2 separate regions of the Homo sapiens genome follow, and region 2 is linked to region 1. The links come from fine-mapping of genetic effects on gene expression. A gene starts in region 1. The other region holds a variant in brackets. All regions are shown on one strand. Distances are from middle to middle.

Region 1 (8,444 bases):
CACACAGTTGCACAGTTTGTCAGTGGGACAGATCTTGACCAAACATACGAACTGAGCCACAGTGTTCAAACACCTTGTTTGCATCCAGCCACCCACCACAGCCAACACCAAATACCTTTGGGTCATCAGCCTCAGGTTTTTCAGTCTCTGAATCGTCATCTTCCTACAAGACAAAGAATTTAGAGGATTAAGCTTAAAGGAGCGGGCCTGAGGAGTCTCACATGCATAACTAGGGGCCGGAGCAAACAGCCCATTTACCCAGCTGGGGTCATCCCACCAAGAATCCCTCCCCTACCATATAACTCAGAACCAGAGAAAAATAAGGGGAAAAAGAGATATTCTGGAGGGGAAAAAAACAAAAAACAAAAAAGCATCAGCAGCTCAAAGTCAAGTTACTTTAGTGGTGAGACAGTCCACATCAATGAAGATGCCCGAGTTCAAAGTCACATACATAAAAATGGAGAAAGCTTGCAATATGTTTTAGGAAAGAGTAAGATCAGGCCACACAATAAAACAGGCATCGTGTTTCCACTGAAGTATCAGTTATTTCAAATCAGGATTATGAGCCTTCTTTCCTTTTCATATACACATGTACATCAGACTCGGACCTACTCTAACAGTGTCCAACACCAAGTGCCAAGGCTTACACACAGCTGTATCGCAGCACCTCAACCGGCATTTGCACAAACATCAACACAGGAAGGCAGGCATCAAACTACCTGAGCAAGTGACCTGGGAAAGGCAGGACTAAAGGGCAATGCCCAACCTTTCAGGAGTCCCAGTTGAGTGGGCTCTGCCTCCACCTAAGTGCTCACAGAACTGCCAGTGATCCATTCTACCCAGTCCTGTTCCTTATCCAGATGAGGTCAGCCTGACACAAAGGATCACACACGGTAAGGCATTCTCCAAAGCGAGCCCGCCATTCCACTGAACGCTAACGCTGATGCTATGAAGGTCAAAGATCAGGAGCAGATGCTGGACCAGCTACCTTATTAGCTGGCTAAATCCATGTCACCTCCACTACCCAGAACACTCCCAATGCACAGAAGCCTTTAACTAAATACCCAGGAAAAAATGGTTTCATTTGAAACTACTATTTTCAACAAAGCTACATTTCAGCCCAAACATTACACAGCACTCCATATATTAATATAAATACCACTCGAGAGACTTGAACAAACTAGACTCATGATTTGGAGACTTAACTGTCCTGTAAGGTACCAGTGAGTCCAAGGCTTTAAATGCAATCTCCATAATCTCCTTAAAATGAAATCAGTCATGCCAAATAAACAGAGATGGAGCTCAGACAAATACAATCACATTTCAGAATCTCTACAACAAGATCTGATGAGAGGATTTTACTAAAATATGAAATGAAGCTTAAACATGATGAAAATTCTAAGCAAAGCAAATATGAAATAACACTTCAAAAACACATTATGCAAACGTACTAAAGAAAAGAGTTATGAATATTAAGCCAGAATGTGTGTACTTCAGAAAAGTCAGAAAACAACTTGCAAAACTTTTCTGAATAATTTCAGTCAACTCTGAATTATCAATATTAATGGATGGGGCTAAAGGCATGAAAGTATCTCCCAAAATGCATCATGTACAAAACGCATTTCTGTTTGTTGTGGAAATAATTTTTTTTTTTTTTAAGATGGAGTCTGGCTCTGTTGCCCAGGCTGGAGTGCAGTGGCGTGATCTCGGCTCACTGCAACCTCCGCCTCCCGGGTTCAAGCGATTCTCCTGCCTCAGCCTCCCGAGTAGGTGGGACTACAGGTGCGTACCACCATGCCCTGCTAATTATTGTATTTTTAGTAGAGATGGGGTTTCACCATGTTGGCCAAGATGGTCTTGATCTCCTGACCTTGTGATCCGCCCACCTCAGCCTCCCAAAGTGCTGGGATTACAGGCATGAGCCACCGTGCTTGGCTGGAAAGAATTTTAATGCTAACATTTACATACCAACATGTAACAAAAATTTCAAACAAATAATATATTTTAAGTGATTTAATTAAAACTTGCTAAGCAGTCAGATTTGACATCTAGACTCAACTCTGCCTGTCTTATGCTAAGCACCAACTTCAATTTCCTTGCGTTTTCTGCAAACTTAAATTCTGGCTCATGTTGCTCAGGTGATTATGTGTCTAAAGACTTTCTTGTTAATAATAGCACAGGTTCTCCTTTCTCCAGCACCTACTGAACTTCAGGCAAGATTTGTGATCAAGAACTAAGGGCACCATTATAAAAAGTGCCAAATAAAATGTCAAGAAAGAAGTTAAGAAGGCCAGGGATGGTGGCTCATACCTGTAATCCCAGCACTTTGGGAGGGTGAGGCAGGGGAATTGCTTGAGGCCAGAAGTTTGAAACCAGACTGGGAAACATAGTGAAACAACGTCTCTACAAAAAATTTTTTTTTAAATTTTAAAAATCGGCCAGGAGCAGTGGCTCACGCCTGTAATCCCAGCACTTTGGAAGGATGAGGCGGGTGGATCACCTGAGGTCAGGAGTTAGAGACCAGAATGGCCAACATGGTGAAACCGTCTCTGTGAAAAATACAAAAATTAGCCAGGCGTGATGGCAGGTGTCTGTAATCCCAGCTACTCAGGAGGCTGAGGGCAGGAGAATTGCTTGAACCTGGGAGGTGGAGGTTGCAGTGAGCAGAGATCGCACCACTGCACTCCAGCATGGGCGACAGAGCAAGATTCCGACAAAAAAAAATAATAATAGGTTAGCTAGGCATGGTGGCGCCCACCTGTAGTCCCAGCTACTGGGTAGGCTGAGGTGGGAGGATCACTTGCGCCCAGGAGTTCAAGACTGTAGTGAACTATCTATGATCACACCACTGCACTCCAATCTGGACAGCAGAGTGAGACCCTATCTCAAAAAAAAAAAAGAAAAGAAAAAGCAGGTGAAAACGAATTTTCCTTTCTTATCTTGTTAATAAACTGAGAAGACTTAAATGAGCCCCAACCAAGATTAAAAATAATGCAGAGTTGACTGTAGATATAAATGATACACCAGTTAGGATGAATGCCTGCTATAAATGGAGTAAATCATTTAAACAGGGAAAAATCAACATAAAACACCCATTGATATCTGGGTTAAATAAAATAATCCACTATCTTTTCCCCCAAATTTCAATTCAAAGATTAATAAAAAATGATCCATGTGAAAATACATTTTCAAACAGATCTGATATCCAATCCAGTTTCTTCCACTAATACTAAAACAAAACGGGAGAGCAAGGGATGGAGCTAACCATGAAATGGAACACTGTTGGCACAGTTCCAAAATCTGACAAATGAAATTGTGCTTTCAGTAGCTCTGGATCTGGGAGATTTACCTACCGACTGTCTACTGTTCTCATCTTCTTCTTCTTCATAACCATCTTCATCACCCCCTAGACGAGAAAAGTCATCCTCCCCATAGGCATCAGATACCAATCCGCCTTTCTCCTCTGAAAGGTTAAAAAACAAACAAACAAACAAAAAGCAAGAAAAAAAAAACAAGAGTTACAATGTAAGAAAAAATGTCCAGAGATTTGAGTGGCCAAGACTATCTCTGAAGATACAAAGGGAACCTAAATCTCATGTTAAGTTACAATAGGCCCAGATTCGGCTCTCTGAGAAGGCCAGCATTTACTGAATAAAATCATTAAAAGGTCAGGGAACAAAACCGAGTACTAAATTCTGTTTCTAATGCTATAAACACTAGATAAACACTAAAGTGTTTATAGGAAACCATCAGAGAACTTTCTGACTGGAAGAGACCACACAAAATCACAAAACATGGAAGTACCTAACCTAATCCAATCCCCTTCACTTTCCAGATGAGGAAGCTAAGGTCCTGATATGTTGTTAGGTAACTTGTTCTTTATTCTCCCAAAGGAATCTGTTTCCATTATCTAACATTGTGCTTCTCAACCTGAGGAGGAGAACATCACCGTTAGGCTTTAAAAACTCACAAAATAAGAAAAATCACCTGGGATCCTTAAAAAGTTCACAAATGCCCACATCCTACCCCAGTTCTACCGAATTAGGTTCTCTCACTTTGGGCATCAGATACGTTTGTTTTTAAAAGCTCCAAGATGTGTTTAGGGCACATTCCTAACTAAAAGTTATAAAGTTAACGAACACAATCTTTACCATCTTCCACGTATGTTTTACTTATCGCTCTCCCTCATCAAACAACGAGCCCAGGGGAAACAGGCAGTGGCTGAGCAGCCGCTCCCTCTTCGTCCATCCCTCTGTCTATCACTATAGCCGGCACGGAGTCTTTCAGTAAGTTTAGGCAAATTAATCGAAATAACGGGAAGGAGATTCTTCATTCTTAGTCCACAGTCTCTAATGCTCTATCTCACCCCGGACCCTGGACCATTCTTCGGGGTCCGGTGCTTGGAGCACAATGACCATCTTGTTCCCTCCCGCCCAGCGAGGGTACAGCATTCCGGGCAGACACCCGATTCCCCCTTCCAGCTTCGCACTTGGGCCTTACCAGCCGCGCTGCCCACCGCCTCGATTCCAGCCTCGCCATCAGACTCGGGCTCTGAATCTTCCGCGTAAACTGCGAGAGACGACAGAACATTCTTCTTCCCCGCCATCTTATTCCCACAGCCCGGGCGTGGCTCACTCCTATGACTCAAGACGCCGACTTCCGGGCGGAAAGGCAGGTTCTTTCGGATCCCAGGAGACCCCCGCGCCACACTGGAAACCAATCAAAACGGCAGTTTCCTGCGCCTGGCTCCGCCCTCATGCCAGCGCTCGCGCTACGTCATCACTGCGCGACGGATATAAGATTGCGTGGGTTCTGCCTAAAGCTGAATTCCCAGCGCTTTGGCTTCTCTGAGTTGGGGTTGTGTATAGGGGTCTTCGAACAGTTCCGGAACCAGCCAGCAGCCTTTAATTCTTGGGCGGACCACGGCCGGTTCTGATATCTTAGGGTGAAGAGAGGGAGGTGTCGGCCAGCCAAGAGAGAAAATTGCGGATCTTGGGCTCAGGAAGACGGGAGAAGGGGTTCGGGGTCCCGGGGTGGAAGAACGGTCGTCGTGGTTGCGCTTATAGAAGTAGGAGCAGGTGGTGGATCTTAGGAAAACGGTTCCCCGTTCTCCAAGCTGTTCTGAAGACATTTATGTTTCTTCTCTTGATCTGATTTCTAGCTCTGTGCTATACCGTGGCCTGGAATAGTTCAATGTTTTCATTTTCATTGAGCGTAAAAGTGGAGATGTTAATTACTGAGGAATGTATTGCTTGAGGCAGTTCACCTTCAGCTTTATTACTTAAAAATAATACATTATTTAAGTGTAATATAGCAAATTGTTACAGAAAAATAATCTGTATTTTTAATGCAAAACAGAGGGTTCTCGTGGCAACCTTTTACTACCTTTGCCTTAACCTTTGGCCACTGTTCTTGGCTAAGATGAGCAGCCACCATACCACCTTTCCTTTTGACCCTGAGCGGCGAGTCCGGAGTACGCTGAAGAAGGTCTTTGGGTTTGACTCTTTTAAGACGCCTTTACAGGAGAGTGCGACCATGGCTGTAGTAAAAGGTAACATTACCAAGCTACCTTCCTTTAAATTTATGCTGGCTATACCATAACGCTGCGGCAGAACACCCTCCTCCTCACCCTTCGTACTGCCTCACCTTTGGTCCATAACTGGATTTGGAAATCTTTAGAGTTGTCAAAGCTTGTAGTTTCGTTTATTTGTTTTAATTAGAGATGGGGTCTTGGCATGTTGCTCAGGCTGGTCTCCAAATCCTGGGCTCAGGCAATCCTCCCACCTCGGCCTCCCAAGGTGCTGGGATTACAAGCATGAGCCACCACGCCCGGCCCAAAGCTTGTAGTTTTAGTGGCAGAACCACCCAGCTGGTCTATATTTCATAGCTAGATTTACACATGGTCTTTGAAAACACTTCAGATTCTCATTATTGTTCGTTTGTACACACAAACGAACAGCAACAGTGAGGGTGGTAGGAATAACTTAACTCGGTCACTGGCCTCCTAGGTAATTCCCTTGTTGCAGGTTGAGTGGCCTTGGTCCCAGATAGAGAAGGAAAGAGTAATAATGTTATAAACCTGAGATACGGTGACAAATGGAAGTTGCCAAGAGGCGAGCAGCAATGTAATATTAATGATACATGTCTAAACAAAAGCCCTCTAAGTAATGTCCTCTCATGTCTACACAGATGTACCCACTCATCTAGCAGTACTCTGCTTTCATGGCTGTTTAGTTCAATCATCCATATCACAGCAGACTCAGACTTCTTTTTTTTTTTTTTTTTTTTTGAAACAGAGTCTTGCTCTGTCGCCCACACTGGAGTGCAGTGGCGCGATCTCGGCTCACTGCAACCTCCGCCTCCTGGGTTCAAGCAATTCTCCTGCTTCAGCCTCCTGAGTAGCTGGGATTACAGGCACGTGCCACCATGCCTGGGTAATTTTTGTATTCTTAGTAGAGACAGAGTTTCACCATGTTGGCCAGGCTGGTCTCAAACTCTTGCCCTCGTGATCTGCCTGCCTTAGCCTCCCAAAGTGCTGGGATTACAGGCGTGAGCCACTGCGCTTGACCCAGACTTTTTAAATCTTGTTTTTAACCATTACTAGAAATGGTTTGGGCATGTATCCAAGTTTCCCAGGATCCTTGCCTTTTTCATAGAAAGGACAGGAGGGGAATTAGGATTACATCGAGACCCTCCCATGTGCCAGACACTCTGCTAGGTGCTTTTCCTACATTCTCATTTAATTTTCAACAACTTCAATGAAAAGGCAGGAAGCACTGAGATATTGTTGTCTTGTATTTTTTCAGGTAACAAGGACGTCTTTGTGTGCATGCCCACAGGGGCAGGAAAATCCCTATGCTATCAGCTCCCTGCTCTGTTGGCCAAAGGCATCACCATTGTAGTCTCTCCTCTCATTGCTTTGATTCAGGTGAGGCTTAGGGCAATGAAGATGGTAGCCCAAAAAGATTCGGGGAAGGTTTTTTGAGGCTGGAAATTTCACTTCTCTATTGGTCTTTTGCCTCTTATTTTCTTTTCTTTTTCTTTTTCCTTTTTTTTTTTTTTTTTTGAGACAGAGTCTTACTCTGTCGCCTAGGCTGAAGTGCGGTGGTGCGATCTTGGCTCACTGCAGCCTCCACCTCCCGGCTTCCAGCAATTCTTGTGCCTCAGCCCCCCATATAGCTGGGATTACAGGTGTATGCCACCATACCCGGCTAATTTTTGTATTTTTAGTAGAGATGAGGTTTCACCATGTTGGCCAGGCTGGTCTCAAACTCCTGACCTCAAATGATCCGCCCACCTCGGCCTCCCAAAGTGCTGGGATTACAGGTGTGAGCCACCACACCCGCCCCTGCCTCTTATTTTCTATGATTTGCCTATCTCATTCGCTATATTGGGTTTCTGTATTTCCCCAATGTAGTGTTCTCCACTGGTGCATATCACTCTGGGAGGTTATGAATGACTCCTCTGAGGTCCCTCACCCTCCTTTGTTATTTTTTTGTTCAGAGGAGTATGAAACTGTATTTGTACACACATATACACTCAGTCTCATGTATACACACACGTGCACTCGTGATGTTGAGACAGAAGTTGCAGATGGATAGATAGCTAAGTTGATATGGGGAATCCCTGGTGTCCTGCTTATTTTGGTAAGGGCACAGTATGTGAAACAGAAAAAAAGATGAGAAACTGTCTGGGACCTTATTAACATCTGCTCTACAGGTGTTCTGACTATTTAAGGCCTGCAGATGGGCTGATAGAATCAGAATTGAGGAAGTGTGGCTGTGTGGGTAAGAGCCATCCACCATGAAGGAAGGTAGAGAGGGAACTACAGTAATAACTTGGTGAATGTTCACCAGGTCCCAGGCTTCGTGCTAAGTGCTTTACATACATTAATTTCTTTCTTTCTTTTTTTTTTTTTTTTTTTGAGATGGAGTTTCGCTCTTGTTGCCCGGGCTTGAGTGCAATGGCGTGTTCTCGGCTCACCGCAACCTCCGCCTCCCGGGTTCAAGCAGTTCTCCTGCCTCAGTCCCCCGAGTAGCTGGGATTACAGGCATGCGCCACCATGCCTGGCTAATTTTGTATTTTTAGTAGAGACAGGGTTTCACCATATTGGTCAGTCTGATCTCGAACTCCTGACCTCAGGTGATCTGCCCGCCTCAGCCTCTCAAAGCGCTGGAATTACAGGTGTGAGCCACCGCGCCCGGCTTACATACGTTAATTTCACCTCTCAGATGTAAATTTTAAGTTATACAACAATGCTATTAGATAGAATTGTATAAATCGTTCAGAGGGTAAGAAACAGCCAGCGAGCATGTGGCGATTAAGTGAGCCAGGATGAAATCTAAATCTGAAGTCTGTCTGACTTCAGAGCCTGTGCTCTAAACCACTTCACCTTCCATAGAGATTGAGCATCCCTAAAGCAAAAATCTGAAATCTGAAATGCT
Region 2 (8,000 bases), 52 kb after region 1:
GTGGCTGGGCTTTGTCCTTCCCCTGGCGTCTGCTCCCCGGCTCTCCTGCTTGTGGTCTGTGCCCATGCACCCCAGGATCCAGGCTGGGGGCCTGGCATCCCTACTCCCTACCCCAGCGCCACTGACCGAGACAGGAAAGAAGCGGGAGAAGTAATTGGCCCAGTTGTCCCGAGCGGCCACCACGATGCGCTTCTTGACGCTGTCTTCGGTGGTGGTGAGAGAATCCAGGTCCACCTCCAAGCCTCCTGTGGGCAGGAAGGACCCAGGCTGCCCTCTGCTCACACAGAGGGGGCTCTAGAGTTTGCTCCCATGCTGCTCCCTCCTTCAGGGCAGGCGCGGCCCCCAGCACTCAAGCTCCCAACTCCATGGTCCCTGGACCCATACCCAGCAGGTCTTTCATTTTCCGCCGCTCATTCTGGGAAATCCGGATACAGGACTCGGAGAAGGTGTCCCGTAGGATCTGGGGGCAGAGCGAGGTGGTCACCACCAGGTCCTGAGACAGAGCCCACCCCCAGAGCAGCCATCCACATGCATGAAGGAAAACCTGAGGAGGCCGATGGAGGGCGCCCTGGCCCCCATGGCCTGTGTGCTCAGCAGAGGGCCTAGGTGGGGCAGGGAGGGATGGAGGGCTTGGGCCACCTCCATTCACACGTCTCACCTGTCCCCTCCCCTGCAACTGCCAGCCCTCCCTTTTCACTCACTGCCCAGAGACCCCGTGGTAACTGCCCTTGGATCAGCCCAGATACAAGATTGTTCGGGGCAGGGGGCAGGTGCTACTGCAGAATTAGGGGGAACAGAGGCTCACTCCTGGGAGCGTTCAGAGGTGGCAAAGTGACAACCATTTATTAAGTACCTACTGTGTGCTAGAGCCTGTGTTGTGCACTGTACGCACTTTGCTTTTAAACTTTATCTATAAAACTAGATGAATAATGGTCCCTACTTCTTGTTGTTGTTGAGACACAGTCTCGCTCTGTCACCCAGGCGGGAGTGCAGTGGCACAATCTCGGCTCACTACAACCTCTGCCTCCCGGGTTCAAGCAATTCTCCTGCCTCAGCCTCCCAAGTAGCTGGGGTTACAGGTGCGTGCCACCACGCCTGATTTTTGTATTTTTAATAGACATGGAGTTTCACCATGTTGGCCAGACTGGTCTCGAACTCCTGACCTCATGATCCACCTGCCTTGGCCTCCCAAAGTGCTGGGATTACAGGCATGAGCCACCGCACCTGGCCATGGTCCCTACTTCTCAGGAATGTTGTGAAGGTTCAATGAAGGCAGGTCTGGGCACACAGAAGTGCCCCCCAGTGCTGGCTGCCAACATGCCCTACGTGGTGTTAACCTGGCCCAGCCATTAGACAAAGGGCACGAAGGATGCTGTCTCTGCAGATGTCTCAGGCTGGCAGGTGGGCCAGCTCTCACCTGCTCACAGAGGAGCCTCAGGTAGTAGGGATGGCTGAAGTTCTCCCGTGGGTAGAACACCTGGAGGAGGGCACAGAAGGGCAAAGATCGGTGGGTCTGGTGCCTCTTCCCAGCAAGCCTCTGCCCTCCCAGGCCTGGAAAATCAGCCTTGAGATGGTGGGCTGTGGGGAGGGGATGCTGGGGTCCCAGGCTGGGATGCACAAAGCCTGCCGCCTCCCTGCCAGCCCAAAGAGGCCAGGCCAAGGCCCCACCCTCATGCCCACCTCCTTGCGTAGGAACAACTTCCAGGGCGTGCCGGTGTAGGAGAAGCACACGCTGCCAGAGGGCGCGAGTAGCTGGGTGGAGACCCCCTGGTCCTCCACGGGCTGTGTCAAGCCTGGCAGAGAGGAGGGGGTGAGGAGCCTCAGTGAGGGGCTGCAGAGCCAGAGTGATGGGGGCACGGGAGGGAAGACCTTCATCCCCACGAGCCTTCCAAGGGCCCGGCTCTCCCAACCTCCAGCTGCCTTACTCCTTCCATGGCACCATCTCCTGCCTCCATTTTGGGCCCTAAACTTTCCCTGGCGTCCGTGAGGCTCGTGGGTCTTCTATGACCATGTCAGCCAGGGCCACTAACTTCCTCACAGAGCTGTCGGGTATGTGTCAGGGACAACACCCTGTGTGTGACAGCCTCTCGATGACAGCCCCAAAGATGCCCAGGCCCTGCCCTGGGTGGGAACGCGGAAGCTGGGACTCCCCAGCTACGTATGGCTCCAAAGTCCAGAAGCCCGAACAGCTGGCCTCAGCCACGCAGAAATGCCTTCAGCCCTGGGCACCGAGAGTCTGTGCGAACCCTGCCTCTGCCCCAGTGAAGCCCACGGCGCAGGAGAAATGTGGTTCCTTACAACGACGCTCTGCTGAAAGGGTCCCTGGGTCCTCGGGCAGAGGCAGTGGTGGCGCTGGTGGAGGTGGGGGTGTGTGGGCAATAGGCAGCTTCTGGCCAAACAGGTCCAGAAGGGGCCCCTGCTTTTCCTTGATGGAGCTAGAGGGCCCAAGCTGTAGCGGGGCCTTGGGTCGAGGAGCCACAGCTGGCGGGGGGCCCTTTCCTGGGCTGGGGGACAGCATCTGGGGGGATACGGAGAAAGTACACGGGCTGAGTCACAGCACAAGGCCAAGTTCGCCCCAGAGAGCCTTGAGCTCCCCAGTGCAGCAGCACACACTCTGGGGGAGACAGGCTGGGGTGCTCACCGGCGGGGACGAGTGGGCACCGTTGATACCCAGCTTGGCCAGAGCCTCGTCCTTGGGGTCGATTTTCCTCAGGAAAGCTTTGGGAGGCCTCGTGGGAGAAGCAAGAGGTCACTAAGTTCATAGGGTGATTCCCCGAGGAGCGGGACAGCCCTGGCCACCTCCCCGTGGGGGCCCACCTGGATGGCTGCACGGGCACAGGCACGGGGCCCGGGCGGCTCTGGTACATGCGGATGATGTTGCCAATTTCCCTGCTGGGTTGTGGCCGCTTGGGCTTGGAGTCTGAGCTGCGCACCACAGTCCCCCTGCCTTGGGCTGGCCCTTGGCCATGGCCCTTGGCCGCTGTCTCCTTGGCTGGCTCAGCCTCAGCCTCTTTTGGAGCTTTGGCCCCACCTTGCTTCAATGGCTTCTTCACGATGGGGGGAGGAGGAGGGGACGGCACTGACCAGGAAACAGGAAAGACTGTTAACCGCGTGCAGAGCCACCGGAGCCCCAGGCCCTGCCCAGCTCCCCACAACCTGCTCTTGTTTCCACTTCTTGCTCCTCCTGCTCCTCCTCCTCCTCCTCCTCCTCCTCCTCCTCCTGCGCTTCCCCCTGGGGGATGTGGACCTTGGCCGGGGGCTTCATCGTCCTCACTGTGATCTGTGGCTGCCCTGCAAGTGTCCAGATGGCCTTCAAAGTTACCCATACTGGCCCAGCTGGGCTCCTGGATGGGCCGCACCAACTCCGGGGAGCAGAGCACACCCCACCCTCCCTGGCCCGGGCCAGGGGCACTGGCCATGTTTCTGCACGGTCCTGCCACCCCAAGTGCCCTCACCCATCCTCTGGAAATAGTTCCGTTTCTGCTGGAAGCTCTTGGGCTGATAGGGCCTGTCTTCAGCCTCCTCGGAGGTCTCCTGGCAGAAGCAGAAATGAGTGGCAGCTCAGCCAGCCTGGGTGCCACACTCGCCACACCCCTCGGGTCCCCAGTCCTGGGCCAGCAGCCTCTTCCCTGTGTCTGCCTACTCACCCTGCCCATGTCCCCTGCCCCTGCAGTCCCCACCCTCACATCCCTTCCTGAGAATATGGTCACCTCCTCACCCTCAGGCAGCCACCCTCTGATCCCAGGTCACGCTGTGGCTTCTCCGGGGGTGTGGGGGGCTTCCTGGGCTTGGAGGTGACGGCTGAGGGTGAGGCCTGGGACGCAGCCTCGGAGGCCCGAGCCTGCTGCTGCCGCTGCTGC[A/G]TCTGCTGCTCCAGGGACAGGGACATGGCCTGGGCTGTCATCTGCTGGGCCTGAAGCAGGAGGAGCAGCCAGTTCAGACCCTCATCCCCGAGCCACAGACCTCTCCTCCACCAGGTGGCCCCAGGGCCCTGCCAGCGCTCACCAGGATTAGCGCCTGCTGCTGGATAAAGTTCTGCTGCTGGACGGCCAGCTGCCCTGCATCCAGGCTGGGAAGCGGTGGCTGCGGCGGCACCACCATGGCTGTGAGGGCGGCAGGCGGCCAGAGTGGTGGGCACCATGGCCAGCCTTGAAGCTCGCTGCCCACTGTGCACTCGGGACTCCTAGCAGGACCCTCCCTCCTCCAGTCCCAGAGCTGGTGGCTGCTCTCCTGAGAAGGGACTCTGGTGCCCCCAGCCCAGACTTACCTGGCATGGCAGGGACTGTGCCCATTGCTGGCATCATGGGCATGGGTGCAGGGACCATGCCTGGCTGGTATGCAGGCATCTGAATCATTCCTGGGTACACTGAGGGAACACGCCCTCCCTGTCAGTCCCTGCCTGGGCCCACATGCCACCTCCCTCCAGCCCCAGGCACAGAGAAGAGCATCGGGCACCGGGGTGCTGGCCAGGGCATCGATCGCCACTGCCAGAGGGGTCCCAGGCCATGCCTGCCATGCTGCCGGGCCCGGAGGCCCTGGGTGAGGAATCAGCCCCTCACTCACCCATGGGGTAGCCCTGCTGTGTGGGCCCAATGGCGCCCCCTCCCTTCATGCGGCTGCTCAGAGCCCAGCTTTGTTCCAGATCCTAAAGGGACAATGGTCACAGGTCAGAGTGAGAGCCCTGAGAAAAATGGAAGGGGCAGCAGAGGCCCCGGGGGGTTGGGGCAGGGGCATTTGGGGGCTGTGCCCGACTCACGCTGAGGCCGGAGGATATCACTGGCTGGAAGATCTGGTCCAGGAAGCCGTCCAGGCTCCCTGACCTCTGGACCTCCCCTGTGGGGCAGGGAGAGGGTTGGAGCCATGGCCCGGGGCGTGGGGCTTCCCATGCTCTGCCAACCTCCATGTGCCCACTCCAGCCTTACCTGTGTGGTCCCTGCTGGGCAGCGTTGGGGCTGGACCTGGAGGGGGTCCTGGGGGCAGTGAGGGGGCCTGAATGCCAGGGGCAAGGGGAATGGCCTCGGCTCTGCAGGAAACGGGATCCAGCTAAGGGGGTGGCCAAGGCTGAGGGTCACCCAGGCTGGGGCAAGAGGTAGAAGCTGCTGCGGGGGTCACCCCATGGTTGGGAGGAGGCTGGGTGGGAGGGCTGGGCCTGTGGCAGCTCCTATAAACCCCTGAGTGTGGCAGGGTGGCTGTGGGGTTCCCCGGCAGGAGCAGGCCAGGGAGAGGGGTGCTGGGTGGCACCTACGAGCCAAGAGGAGTGATGGGGTAGCTGCGGGGGCGAGCTGGGTCCCCCAGGTCCTCAGTCTGGCTGATCAGGTCCAGCACAAAGTCGCAGCCAGCCAAGTCCTGCCATGCGTCCCTGGAGTGCAGTGACACAGACCAGCCCCGGGGAGGCGCCTCCAGGCCTCTGGGTGGGAGGGGACCAGTCAGTGAGGCAGGCGGCCATCCAGAAGGGGGCAAGGACCACAGGGTGGGCCAAGGGGGCAGGGGGCTGAGGAAGGGAGGGTGGCCCTGGATCCGCCTGGTCCGGGACCCAGGTTTGCTCAGCAGTGGGGGCTGCTCCCCTCCTCACCTCACGGCCCTCCACTTCCACAAGGGCTCCAGCATGGGCATTTCTTTTCTGACCTGCTGAGTTAGAATCTGCCGTGGGAGCTCCCAAGCCCCTCATTCCTAATCTGCCCCCGGCTCCCCATCGCCATCTGCAGTCTGGCCCCTGCCCACCCCGGGGCACCTCTCCTCCCGGCCCCTGAGACTGGGCTTGGAGAAGGAGGAGGGTATAGGACAAGGGTCACTTTGGCCACACTGTCCCCCATCCCCGGTCCCCATACCTGCTCTGCAGGATCCACCCAGCCAGCTGCTCCCCGGTGGTCCAAGACTCCACCTCGGCCGAGTAGCACTCCTCTGCAGGGGCATGGGGGGCGGGGGCAAGAGTGAGGGACAGCAGAGTCCACCCTGACAGGAAGGGGCTGCTGTCCCCATGAGAGTTTCAAAAGCAGGACAGAGGGGAGGGGGATCAGGGTCACTGAGGACAGGGCAGCAGGAAGACTGGGGCAGGAAGGGGTTCCAGGGAGGGCAAAGGGGTAGGGCTGGCCCCACTTCAGGCCTGGGAGGCCTCAGCCAGAGGCAGCCCTCACCGCTGAAGGTGAACACATCCAGCGCCATGCGGCCCCGCCGCCATCCGGCCAGCCACTCCAGCTGGGTCGGGGGGTGGGCCCGAGTGGCCCCCGAGGCCAGCTGCGACTGCTCCAAGGCCCCCAGCAGCTTGTGCTGGCACAGCGCTGCCATGCCCCTGGGGGCCTGGTCAGACACGAACCTGCAGGGCGGGCACAGGCTGCAGTGGAGGCAGGGTGATCCAGCGACCCCACCTGCCAGGTCCCCACCTCCCAGGCCCCTTACTTGAGCAGTGGCTTCTGTAGGACAGGCAGTGGGGGAAAGGCGCTGAGCAAAACAGCCATGAGGGCCCAGCCACGCTGGCTCTGCTGTTCATCTGGGTTCTGCCATAGCTGGGCCACCAGCTGGCTAAAGAGCTCATTCCGCAGCCCTGGCCGGCACTGCCCCTGCCGCACCAGGTATGCGCCCATGATCTGCCTCTGCCAGGACTCCAGGGATCCGTCCCCCAGGAGCCGCAGCATCTGCCGACACAGCCGGGTAAGGACAGGACGTGCGGGGCTCCCAGGCGCCTATCCTGTCCCTTCTCCAATGTGTCACTCACCACTTTGTTGATGTCCAGGGCACGCTGAGGGTTGTCTCCATCCAGCTGGGTTAGGGGCTTCGCCAGTGGCTGCCCTGGCCTGGGCAGGGACGGTTCCTGCAAGGAAGGAGAGGGCTCAGTCCATGCTCACCAGCTATCAGACAGCCCAGGGGAGCCCCACCGGAGCAGGCACCTCGGGAGAGGCAGAGGGGCTGGACAGAAATGCATCTTAATGCCTTTTTTTTTTTTTTGAGGCAGAGTCTTGTCTGTCGCCCAGGCTGGAGTGCAGTGGCACAATCTCAGCTCACTGCAGCCTCCACCTCCCAGGTTCAAGTGATTCTCCTGTCTCAGCCTCCTGAGTAGCTGGGACTACAGGCGCATGTCTGGCTAATTTTTGTATTTTTAGTAGAGACGGGGTTTCACCATGTTGGCCAGGCCGGTCTCAAACTCCTGACCTCAGGTGATCCACCCACCTCGGCCTCCCAAAAGTGCTGGGATTACAAGCATGAGCCACCATGTCCAACCTGTATGTGCAGTTTTGAACCTGCATTTGTATTTACTGCTGAAGTCTGGACAATTTCCCTTGTCAATAAACATTCTTTAAGGTCATGACTTCAAAAGCAGGGCACTACCGCAGGTACAACAAAGGTGTGGCATCGTGGATCTAAATAACGTCTCCCATTCAATAACACCAACTGTTATCTCCAGTAACGCTCTATGGTGAGACAATTACATTCAACGGTTATTTTCAGAGCAATTCAGCGCTACTCACAGCCCCAAAGGCTGGGGAGGAAGGAGGGCAAGAGCTGACAGCGGGGAAAAAAACGCAGCATCTGTCAGGCAGGTGCTAACTCAGAGCGGTGAGGCCAGCGGGAAGAGCTTAGGCCTGGGCGCCCACCTGAAAGCCGATGGCGACGAAGCTGGAGAAAGGGAACAGGTCAATGTCTGCTGGGAGAGTCAGGCTGGGCCGGGCAGGAACCTCAGGCGGCAGGCACTCGGTGATGCTCCCAGCCAGGGCGTCCCGATGGCCTGGGAACAAGCACCGGGAGGCAGCCCAGGAGCATCCAGGTGTGGTACCTGGCCCTGGGACCACCTCCATCCCTCACCACGAGCCATCAGCCCCTGTCCACAGGGACCCAAGTGATGAGCTCAGGGGAGTCTGGAGCATCAGAGGGAGGAACCACAAGGGACAGACACACCCCACAGTAAAGGGACTGGAGAAGGAGTCCTAACAAGAGGACACCAACAAGACTCACTTTCCGCCGTCTTCAGCATGACGGCCAGCTCAGCCGGGATCTCCAAGCGCCCCAGC

Direction of the effects. Alleles are on the strand shown, and positions count from the first base shown. SD is a standard deviation of normalised expression in the study named.
With allele A in place of G in region 2, the expression in pancreas of the gene that starts at base 4,825 in region 1 is higher (small effect, 0.21 SD a copy in GTEx).

Evidence for each region.
Region 2: its variant is fine-mapped to the expression of RECQL5 in pancreas (GTEx, PIP 0.92).

The regions. Positions count from the first base shown.
Region 1 is chr17:75,663,535-75,671,978 of GRCh38, reverse strand. It overlaps RECQL5 (RecQ like helicase 5), which reads left to right and starts at 4,825. Exons shown (of 20, transcript NM_004259.7): 1 at 4,825-4,935; 2 at 5,408-5,551; 3 at 6,807-6,928. The coding sequence starts at 5,422. SAP30BP (SAP30 binding protein) reads right to left here and starts at 4,641. Exons shown (of 11, transcript NM_013260.8): 1 at 4,501-4,641; 2 at 3,354-3,463; 3 at 116-163. The coding sequence starts at 4,606. RefSeq lists enhancers at 4,400-4,649, 4,820-4,919, 4,501-5,700.
Region 2 is chr17:75,611,603-75,619,602 of GRCh38, reverse strand. MYO15B (myosin XVB) reads right to left here. Exons shown (of 64, transcript NM_001395058.1): 24 at 7,945-8,000; 25 at 7,587-7,717; 26 at 6,710-6,805; 27 at 6,394-6,629; 28 at 6,132-6,310; 29 at 5,826-5,898; 30 at 5,243-5,404; 31 at 4,920-5,020; 32 at 4,754-4,830; 33 at 4,561-4,642; 34 at 4,265-4,363; 35 at 4,003-4,100; 36 at 3,719-3,910; 37 at 3,456-3,534; 8 more. Among named protein-coding and RNA genes, the nearest start is that of SMIM5, 18 kb to the left of the region's middle. The variant A/G (reference allele first, on the strand shown) is at 3,861.